Regions from separate parts of the Homo sapiens genome. Here regions 1, 3 and 4 are each linked to region 2. Evidence: fine-mapped expression QTL. A gene starts in region 2. Each other region holds a variant in brackets. All regions are shown on one strand. Distances are between the middles of the regions.

Evidence for each region.
Region 1: its variant is fine-mapped to the expression of WIPI1 in whole blood (TOPMed, PIP above 0.99).
Region 3: its variant is fine-mapped to the expression of WIPI1 in whole blood (INTERVAL, PIP above 0.99).
Region 4: its variant is fine-mapped to the expression of WIPI1 in whole blood (TOPMed, PIP 0.93).

Annotation. Positions count from the first base shown.
Region 1 is chr17:68,482,323-68,485,082 of GRCh38, forward strand. It overlaps a transcript of PRKAR1A not described here. Among named protein-coding and RNA genes, the nearest start is that of WIPI1, 26 kb to the left of the region's middle. The variant G/A (reference allele first, on the strand shown) is at 1,116.
Region 2 is chr17:68,456,472-68,459,182 of GRCh38, forward strand. It overlaps WIPI1 (WD repeat domain, phosphoinositide interacting 1), which reads right to left and starts at 1,025. Exons shown (of 13, transcript NM_017983.7): 1 at 871-1,025. The coding sequence starts at 950. It also overlaps a transcript of PRKAR1A not described here. RefSeq lists silencers at 765-1,444, 1,181-1,467.
Region 3 is chr17:68,424,142-68,426,641 of GRCh38, forward strand. WIPI1 (WD repeat domain, phosphoinositide interacting 1) reads right to left here. Exons shown (of 13, transcript NM_017983.7): 12 at 1,934-2,034. It overlaps MIR635 (microRNA 635), which reads right to left and starts at 407; the gene lies at 310-407. It also overlaps a transcript of ARSG not described here and a transcript of PRKAR1A not described here. The variant CT/C (reference allele first, on the strand shown) is at 1,241.
Region 4 is chr17:68,435,977-68,438,476 of GRCh38, forward strand. It overlaps WIPI1 (WD repeat domain, phosphoinositide interacting 1), which reads right to left. Exons shown (of 13, transcript NM_017983.7): 5 at 406-503. It also overlaps a transcript of ARSG not described here and a transcript of PRKAR1A not described here. Among named protein-coding and RNA genes, the nearest start is that of MIR635, 13 kb to the left of the region's middle. RefSeq lists an enhancer at 64-564 and a silencer at 2,281-2,370. The variant C/T (reference allele first, on the strand shown) is at 1,012.

The DNA of each region.
Region 1 (2,760 bases), 26 kb after region 2:
TTATTACTCTTTGACAGACAAGGAAACTGAGGCTCAGTTGTTTGCCCAATGACACACAACTGTTGGGAGGTAAAACTGGAATTCAAATACAGTTTCATCTCATTTATATGCTATAATATAGAAACAAGGATTATTGGGACTTTTTTTACGGTGCTGTAATAAGGAAGCAATCACTAGCTTTTCAAGAGGAAAAAAATAAATATTTTAAATGGCAAAGACATTTAGGATTTTAAAATTCCTCTTTGTTTTCAAGTTTTGTACTTCCTTCACTCTGGGGCAATAACCCTAGACACCGGGTGAAGGTTAAATAGCTCATTAAGCTTAGCGTTATCAAACCAAATATTGCCCGTACAATAAAGGTAAAAAGAATGGGCAGAAAAGGAGGCTTTGTGTGTCTATCCATTGGCTCCCTTATCTGTTTTTACTAAGGTCAATCGGTGGACAAAGGAAGGGCCAGATGTCCTCAAATTGCCTTCAGCATATAAACTATTTGCTCTCAGCAAATATATCAACCATTCCCACACTGGGGTGACAGACCACCTGGAGCAAGCTATGAGTTTTCCAGGCAGAAAGTATTTCTTTATGATTCCAGCTTGATGTCTGATCATATCTGGATGTGGCTAATTGTTTGTCCTTAGTTTTGAGGAAGTCCAATTTATCAGTTTTTTTGAACAAATCATGCTGTGGTGTCAAACATAGGAAATCATTGGCTAACTTAAAGTCAGAAAAGAATTTCTTATGTTGTCTTCTACATATTCGTTAGTTTAGCTCTACATTGTGATCCATGATCTAGTTTGAGTTTTTTTTTTTGTCTATGATGTGCATGGACCCAAGTTCATATTGGTTCATACAAATCATCAAATTGCTCCAGCACCGGGCCAGGCGCAGTGGCTCACACCTGTAATCCCAGTACTTTGGGAGGCAGAGGTGGGTGAATCACCTGAGGTCAGGTGTTCAAGACCACCCTGGCCATTATGGTGAAACCCCATCTCTACTAAAAATACAAAAATAAGCTGGGCATGGTGGCCAGCCCCTGTAATCCCAGTTACTCAGGAGGCTGAGGCAGGAGAATCACTTGAACTCGGGAGACAGAGTTTGCAGTGAGCTGAGATGAC[G/A]CCACTGCACTCCAGTCTGGGAAATAGAGCAAGACTCCGTCTTAAAACAAAACAAAACAAAAAAAGCTTCAGCACCATTTGTTGAGGAGGTGGTCCTTTTTCACTGCATTGCCTTCACATCCTTGTTAAAAATCAATTGTCAGGCCAGGTGCGGTGGCTCATGCCTGTAATCCCAGCACTTTGGGAGGCCAAGGCATGTGGATCACCTGAGGTCAGGAGTTCAAGACCAGCCTGACCAACATGGAGAAACCCTATCTCTACTAAAAATACAAAATTAGTTGGGTGTGGTGGCGCATGCCTGTAATCCCAGCTACTTGGGAGGCTGAGGCAGGAGAATTGCTTGAACCTGGGAGGTGGAGGTTGCGGTGAGCTGAATTCATGCCATTGCACTCCAGCCTGGGTAACAAGAGCAAAACTCCGTCTCAAAAAAAAAAAAAGAAAGAAAAGAAAAAAAATCAATTGTCCATATATGTGTGTGTTTGTTTCTAGACTCTGTTCAGTTCATTGATCTATTTGTTAATATTTATGCCAATACCATGTTGTTTTATTACTGGGGCTTTATAATGACTTTTGAAATTAGGTACCATTAGCCCTCCAACTTTGTTTTTGTTATTCTAGGTATTTGTGCCTTTCCTTATGAATTTTGGAATCAGCTTGTCAATGTCTACAAAAAATCCACAAACAACTGCAGGCATTTTTATTGGGATTGCCCTGAAACTATAGAGTAATATGGGGGAGAACTGACATCTTGGCAATACTGACTGTTTTGGCACACAAACAAATTAAATCTATCCATTTATTTAGGTCTTTAAAAATTCATCTCTGTAATGTGTTGTGGTGTCCAGTGTACTGCTCTTGCACATCGGTCAGATTTATCTTTAAATGTTTTGTATTTTTGATAGTATTAGAAATGGGAGTTTTAAATTTAAAATTTTTCATTGTTAGTAGATAGAAATTCAATTAATTTTTTTATTTTGACTTTGTATCCTACAACCTTGCTAAACTCACTTATCGTGGTATCTTTTTTTTTTTTTGTATTCCATCGGGTTTTCTACAATTTTACTTCTTCCTTTCTGATATGGATGCCTTTTATTTCTTGCTTTTGCCTTGTTGAACTGACTAGATCTTCCATTATAATGTTAAATAAGAGTGATGAGAGTGGATGACCTTGACTTGATCCTGATCTTAGATAGAAAGCATTCAGTCTTTCATCATTGAGTAAAATGTTCCAGGTTTTTCACAGATGTCCTTTAACAGGTTGAAAAAGCTCCATTTGGGTCAGTTTTGGAATCTCATCAAATGTAGCAAGAAAGGCTGACAAACAAAGTAGTGTTTTCCATCCCGACAGAGAAAGCAAGTGAGGGTGAAGTCTCAGATTCTGGAGACAATCCAAACTAACAAAATGTCCCTAAATTTGTCATGAAAATAAAAGTGGGGAGTCAAAGGATATTGTTCACTTTCATAGTTCAAGGCAAAGTTAAATGTGCTATGTTCACTTTAAAATGAATGTGTTTTCTGCCACAATGGCAAAGAATTAACAAATTAGCAATTTAGTTTGTAAGAGATCCACGGAATATATTAAGACATTGCAGATGTTATCTGTTTTACCAAGGACTCAAAGAACAACTTGAACTTCTATGATTTG
Region 2 (2,711 bases):
TCCCCAGGGCTCGCTTCCATGAAAATAGGGAAAGAAACAGGCGTTTGCCTGTAAGTCACAGAATCCTGCAGATGCCTGAAACACACTTCAGCCCAGCTCCCTCTCAAAGCCCAAATGTGAACATCGAAGTAAAACATTAAAAATCCACTCAAAAACAACAGGGTGGAGCTCCTGTTTCCTGGAGAGAAAGCAGTCTGCGCCCGGGAAAAGAGTCTTGGACTCCGAGAAGGAGATCCTGCCTGGCTGGGTGGGCGATGTGAAAACAGCCAAAGAAATCCAAAGGTTTCTTCCATCCAGAGCGGGCAGGCACGATGCCCTGCGTCGGGGATGGGACAGGGGCTGGCCTGGCCGCAGGGATAGGCTGCCTCTTTGTCCGAGGCCCTGCCCAGATGCCACGTTGAGATGCTCAAGGACAAATGGGAAAGTTTTTCCTGTACTCTCATCTTCCTGGGCCCCAACTACAGAGTCCTGGGTCAACTTGCAACTTCCTCTCCTTTCTCATCTCTTTCTTTTGGCCACTGTCTCTCTTCCCCAGACACCCACTTTGGTCACTGGCTTTCCCACCGCCCTGCTCCCCCCATATTCCGTGGCCCCCGCAGCCCCACCACTCCCTTTGCGAACTCCCTGCTTTCACCCTTGGCCCAACCTTGTCGCTCTGGGAGGACACTGGGAGTGGGGTGGGGTGGGGGGTGCGGCAAACCCCACTGAAGGGGTACGGGGATAACAAGATCCCAATGCGTCCGAAGCAGACACCGGCCCTCCCGCCGAGGCCGCCTCGAGGCGGAAGCCACAAGCTGCTCTCAGGACGACACCCCTGGGTCCTGACACTCTGTCCCCCACCTCCCTGGCAGGGGCCGAGTCGCAGCTTACGTGCAGTCCTGGTTGAAAGAGAAGCAGCTGAGCGCCGACTCAACCCCGCCCGGGGGAGCGTCCGCGGCCTCGGCCTCCATCGGGGGCTCGGCCCGGGAAGCCGCAGCTCGGAGCCGGCGACAGCCACCTCAGCAGCCCGCCCGCGCCGGCTCCACGGGCCGGGTCGCCGGTCCTGCCCCGCCCCTACCCCGCCCCGTCCCCACCCCGCCCCTACCCCGCCCCGTCCCCACCCCGCCCCTACCCCGCCCCGTCCCCGCCGCGTCCCCGGCTTCGCCCCGCCCCTTCTCGCCCCTCCAGCTGGTCCCGAGGACCAGAGCACCTGATAGGGCGGGGCCCCTGCCTCCGGCCACCATTGGCCACGAGCCCAAGCCACGGCTGGCGGGCACCGCCCCCCTTGGCCAATCCGTGGCAGCTGTGGGCGGACCCGCCCGGCTGGCGACCCGCCCCTGGCTTCGTAACGCGGCTCTCCATTGGACAAAGGCGCGTGACGCAAAGGCAGCAGGCCCACGTGGCGGTGTTTTCATTGCCGGAGCCGCCCAGCTGGGAGGGAGAGGGAAGAAGGAATGCGGCTGGGGCCAGATCTGCTGGTTTCAGTCCGGCAACTGCGTCGGGGCCGCCGCAAGGGTGACAGGAGGACGCGCTAGTTCCCACCCCGCCCAGACCCCTTGCCATGTGTAACTCTGCCTATTAAACTTACAGAGTTTAGCAGAGAGCGTTAGACTCCAAAGCCCCACCCTTTTGTCGAGTCCTCAAGCCGCATTGAGAGAAGCTCCTGAAATGGGGCTGCCTCAGCCAGAGAGATAGCAAGTTATCTTATCCATTGCCGAGCGGTTGAGAACCCTCACTACTTGCCAAGCGCGCCGTACTATGTATGTCATCTTGAATTCTTATAAAACTTGTGTGGAAAATACGATTGTGCTCAATATACAGAAGAGGCAACTGAAGCTCCAAAGCTAAACAATTTGTCTAAAGTAACAGTAAATGGTAGAATGTCTGCATGTCTGCTTTCAAGACCTGTGCACTAAATAACTGCTAAACAGTAATTTGCAAAAACAACGTAGCACCTAGCATGCGAGATTCTAGGTTTTCTAACCAGGACAGAAATGACTGCAGCATTTGACGGAGCTGGAAGGTGGGGGGAAGCACCTTTGATCTGAAAAGTTACAAAAATGGCACAAAGTATCTAAACAAGACCTATCCGATCCGCAGCTGAAAAAAATGAAAGTGTGTGTAGGGCAGTGTAGTTTATGAAAGGGGTAACGTCTTGAAGATATAGCACAATTCAAAACTCACGTAATTCGAGATAAACCTTAACAAAGAATCTCTTTTTAAAAGCTGAGTACTGTACATGTTCCCATGCGGAATTACTGTCAATACGGTTTATGAAGCAGGAGCTCTGCCAGCTTTGGATTGTATAACTGCTGATGGATTTTTAATTCATTTTTTCAAATTTTGAGATGATATTTTAGTTATTGTTATATGACAGTCTCTCAAATCAGCATAATTCAAATTTATTAGGTTGGTGCAAAAGTAATTGCGGTTTTCCCCATTTCCCACTTTTAATACCCAGTTTATGACAAAGCTACTTTTATGTATGTGTATATATATATATATTTAACCTTGGACCTACAATAGATGAACAAAGGGCACTATTTCACCTAAACCTTTCTGGTTGGATTTCCGGTTTGTGTTTTCTGAGATGCAAATGTAACAGTTTCTTTTCTCAACTTTATTATTTTTTTCTCTCCACTGATGTAAAAAATAGTTCAGCTCATAGATTCACAGATGTTATTGCTCTTTGGCTGATTGTGAGGTGTTGTATAAACTATCAGAAGTGAATG
Region 3 (2,500 bases), 32 kb before region 2:
TTAGGCAGCATGCCAACAGAGGTTTTGAAGTTTATAATTAGTATTTTTAAGAACAACTGCTCTCCGCCACTGAGATATAAACTTCACTTGCCAGCCACGTCTCTGACAACCTGCCTATTGAAAGCCAGAAATGTAAAAGCTCACGCTGCGACCGACCCGCAGAGCCGATGTGGGAAATCACAAAACAACAGCCCCAGCCCTGCATGCAGGGCCCCACCGCAGCTTTGTTTTCTAAGCCAAATGTGCTCACTAGAGGGTTCCACGGATCTGCGGGAGAAAGAAGCCAGACCTGCACTCCATCCTTTTACAATTGGAAGCTCAATGGACACAAAACAATGATCAGGAGAAGTTTCCATAACAAAGCCTAATGGACATTGTTTCAGTGCCCAAGTGGCAGCTCCTCTCTGGCTCTAGGAGCTGATGCTCCAAGTCTTGGCCCAAACACTACTTCCGGCCGGGTGCGGCGGTTCACGCCTGTAATCCTAGCACTTTGGGAGGCCGAGACGAGTGGATCACTTGAGGTCAGGAGTTTGAGACCAGCGTGACCAACATGGTGAAACCCCGTCTCTACTAAAAATACAAAATATTAGTTGGGCATGGTGGCGCACATCTGTAATTGCAGCTACTCGGGAGGCTGAGGCAGGAGAATTGCTTGAACCCAGGAGGCAGAGGCTGCAGCGAGCCGAGATCACACCACTGCACTCCAGCCTGGGTGACAGAGCAAGACTCCGTCTCAAAAACAAAACAAAACAAATCAGTACTTCCATCTCGAAATGATTTCAGGTTGACTATCTGGGATGTTTTGACTGAAGCTCACAAGAGCGGTCTATATGTTACTCCAGATGGGAGCCTGAAGAATCAGCAGTTAAGGAAGCCCCAGCAGGCTCTCAGGAGGGAATCTTGTCTTCAGTTCCAGGTGATGGAAGAAGCCACGCCCAGCACTCAGCCAGCCCCGAGGGCCCTAGCTGTGGGAACAGGCTGAGCAGGTTGCTGGGAAACCCAGCTAAAGGTGCTCGGGCAAGCTCCTGCCCTGCACCTGCTGCCCTCCACAGAGCACACAATTGCTTTTCTTTTCTTTTTGAGATAGAGTCTCACTCTTTCACCTAGGCTGGAGTGCAGTGGCACAATCAGAGCTCACTGCAGCCTCGACCTCCCAGGCTCAGGTGATCCTCCCATCTCAGCGTCCCGAATAGCTGGGACTACAGGCACGTGACACCACACCCGGCTAATTTTTTCTTTT[CT/C]TTTTTTTTTTTTTTTTTGGTGGAGATGGGGTTTTGCTGTGTTGCCCAGGCTGGTCTCTAACTCCTGGGCTCAAGCAATCCTCCAGCCTCGGCCTCCCAAAGTGCTGGGATTACAGGTGTGAGCCACCGCACCCGGCCACTTGTTTCTTAATGAGTGTCTGCAACTGCTGGGGAGGTGCGGGTCTGCCGGCCAGAGCTGCAGGTAAGTGAGGGTCAAGCTGGTTCACAGAGTGCAGCAACTCAGCTCAGAGTCCTGAACACACAGCCCAGCCCTCTGAAACCATCCCCTCCAGCACAAGGAAGGCAGCATTCTGCAAACGCATCCATGGGAGCCTCAGGAAAATAAGTTTTAGACAAGTCACGTGTTCCTACCTTCCAGGCAGCAAAGTCAGTGCTACAGAAGCAAAGTAAGGGATCGCAGGCCTCTGGCTGGAGGGAGGCCACCAAGACTCCCTGGATTAGTATTCGGTGACTCTAATGCCATCAGGGTTTAGCTCGACACCTAAAGCCTACTCTGTAGGATTCGAAGCACACAGTACAACAAATATCCTATGGCTTTCCAAATACTAGAGCAGAGAATTAGTTGTTATAGATTAGAAAACAGGGAAAGGGACTCTGCCTCTCGTATGAGGCGAAGGTTTCCTTCTAAGCACACAGACTGAGCCGCCCAGTTACGGGTTCCTAATGCTCACAGGAGGAAACTCATTCTCATCATCAAGACACACTGGTCCCGTCGCAAACTCATGTTCAGGAATAACTTCTCCTCGCAGCGCCCCGCCGTCCTCAGAATAACCTGGAAACCAAGAAAGAGACATGAAACAAGCACTGGGGATCTGCTTTTATGCCATGACCTGGCGGGTGGGGAGCGGGGGCTCAAATAAAGGGCAAAGGAAGCAAAGGGGCTGTCTGTCTTCCCCCTGGAGGTACTGTGCCTAGGACAAGTCATAATCCTCACCATCTGCCATCTTTAAGCCTGACCTGCCTTTCCACTTCAGATGCCTGAGGCATCCTACCTCTTTGAATTTTTCTTTGTTGAGGTAGGGTCTCAGTATGTTGCCCAGGCTGGTCTCGAACTCCTGAGCCTAAGGGATCCTTCTGCCTCAATTTAACTTCCTGAGTGGCTAGGACTACAGGCTCTTTGGAAATTTTAGTTTAGTTTTTATTTTTTGAAACAGAGTCTCACTCTTTCACCCAGGCTGGAGTGCAGTGGTATGATCTCAGCTCACTGCAATCTCCGCCTCTCTGGTTCAAGCAATTCT
Region 4 (2,500 bases), 21 kb before region 2:
CGCAGGCGCGCCCTGCACGCATCTTTAGGCAACTTCCCACAGCAATCTTGTCCCGCTCAGGGATGCCTCAGAGACCAGAGGGCAGGGAATATGAAACACCTGCACACTGTCTCAGGCTGTGGCATGGGACAGGGTGACACATTCAGGGAGACAACTGGCCCCCTGCTGGCAAGTGGTTTTCATTATGCTGCAGATGTCTAACTTGGCCTGGCCAGCTGGCTTATGGTGAGGTTGACTCACAGCAAGCCCGAGGGGAAATAGTATCACCTTCTCTTGAACAACTCCCCAGTATTGCTTACTCCCACCGCCTCCAGCCCCCGACGGCAGGGCGTCCTTATCTATCTCCTTCCATGACCACACAGCCAAGGCAGGTGGGTTGGCTCAGCCAGGTCACCGTCAACTTACCAGGGAGTTTCCATCATAAAGCACAATCTCCCCTGAAGTCAGGCTTCCAGGATAGGCCAGGTAAGAATTGGAATGGTTGATAGAGAGAGCACATAGACCTGGCAAAGAAGAAACAGAACATGAGAAGCCTGGGGCCAAGGGAGAGATTGCACGGCTGGAGAGGGCATCTGAAAACAGTACAGCTACAGTGCCACCTACTGGCAAGGGGAGGAATGGCTTTGCAGACAACTGCTTTCCGCTGATGATTCTTCTGATTAAGGCTTCCAATAAAGCAACTTCACAGGGGAAGACCTCCTGATTTAACACTGGCTGCGTCCTTGCTACAGTGAAACAATGAGACTTGCCGGGCACAGTGGCTCATGCCTGTAATTCCAGCACTTTGAGGCGGGCGGATCACTTGAGGTCAGGAGTTCCAGACAAGCCTGGCCAACATGGTGAAACCCCATCTCTACTAAAAATACAAATAGCTGGGCATGGTGGTGCGTGCCTATAGTCCCAGCTACTTGGGAGGCTGAGGCAGGAGAATCGCTTGAACCCAGGAGGCAAAGGTTGCAGTGAGTGGAGATCGTGCCACTGCACTCCAGCCTGGGCTACAGAGTGAGACCC[C/T]GTCTCAAAAAAAAAAAAATATATATATATGTGTGTGTGTGTGTGTGTGTATATATTGCTCATTTTTACATTTTACCCCAGGACTCTGAAACAGCATCTACTTTTCTTCCAATTCCATTATCCTCTAGGGTTACAAGAGATTTCCTCAAAACTGAAATAAATCTTCCTATAGTGAAAAGTCAGTACATATTGGTCTTTCTGCAGATGATTATATACTGTTGGCCAGTAACTTCAAGTTGGAGAAGAGGAGCTGCCAAGAACCTATTTAGAAACTGAGAAATTTCAGGCCAGGCAAGGTGGCCCACACCTGTGATCCCAGCACTTTGGCAGGCCGAGGCAGGTGGGTCACCTGAGGTCAGGAGTTCGAGATCGGGCTGGCCAACATAGTGAAACCCTGTCTCTATTAAAAATACAAAAATTAGTCAGGTGTGGTTGCATGTGCCTGTAGTCCCAGCTACTCGGGAGGCTGAGGCAGGAGAATTGCTTAAACCTGGAGGTGGAGGCTGCAGTGAGTGAAGATAGTGCCACTGCACTCCAGCCTGGGTGAGAGTGAGGTTCTGTCTTAAGAAAAAAAAAAAAAGAAACCGAGCAATTTCTGAGCCAAATGCCCTGCCTTGATAAGGGAAATGGGTACCTCCCGAGGAGGAAGTTTATTTGAGGTCTGCGTCTGCAGTCAAGATGGTGTGCCTAGACATTGAGACAAACTAAATAAAGAGGACATTTTGGATTTAAGATGCTTCAATAATATTCCGGAAGAGTAAACAGCCCATCAAACCACTGAACCAACATAAGCTGTTTTTATTTATAAGGGGATTCAAGAAGGGAGCATTTAAGTAAAGGATTTTCAAAACAATGGTTTAGATGAATAGAGGTGCACATGATAGCAGTGAATTCCAGCAATTCCATAGAAACCAAAGTGTTACCAGAAACTTTGAGATCACGCAAGAGAGACATCTCTCTTAAAAAAAAAAAAAAAAAAAAAAAAAGTGACTGGCGTCTATTACAAGTTAGTATATTAAGTGGGTTTCTTCTAAAAGTATAAGAAAAAACTTTAGGTCAGGCTGAAACATACCTCAACTAATCTGCTGAGGAAGGAGAGCAAAGGAAAAAGAAAGTAAACATTTAGAGTTGGAACCTAGGTCTCATTTCCTGCTCTGGCTTTGCTGAGTCCACAGCAGGGCTGTCCTCTTATCACTTGCCATGCATAGCTACGGGAGGAAGTGGCTGAGCCCCGGAACCTTTAACTGCACGTTCTGGCAGCCCTGCCACCCCTTTGGCGATACAAGGTCATTCCTGGCCCCAGCCTTAGAAGAGGCCACTCGTCCATTTCCAGTTTTGCTCTGGAAACCCCAATTCCTCACCCCTTCTGAATTCTTTGCTATCCAAATGAAATTTCAAGAACAGCTAGGCAGGCAGAAGGGATTCTAGTCTTGTGAAACTGGGGAGGGAAGGCAGTCAGGAGATCTGGTTGTCTTGTGTGCTGGGTTCC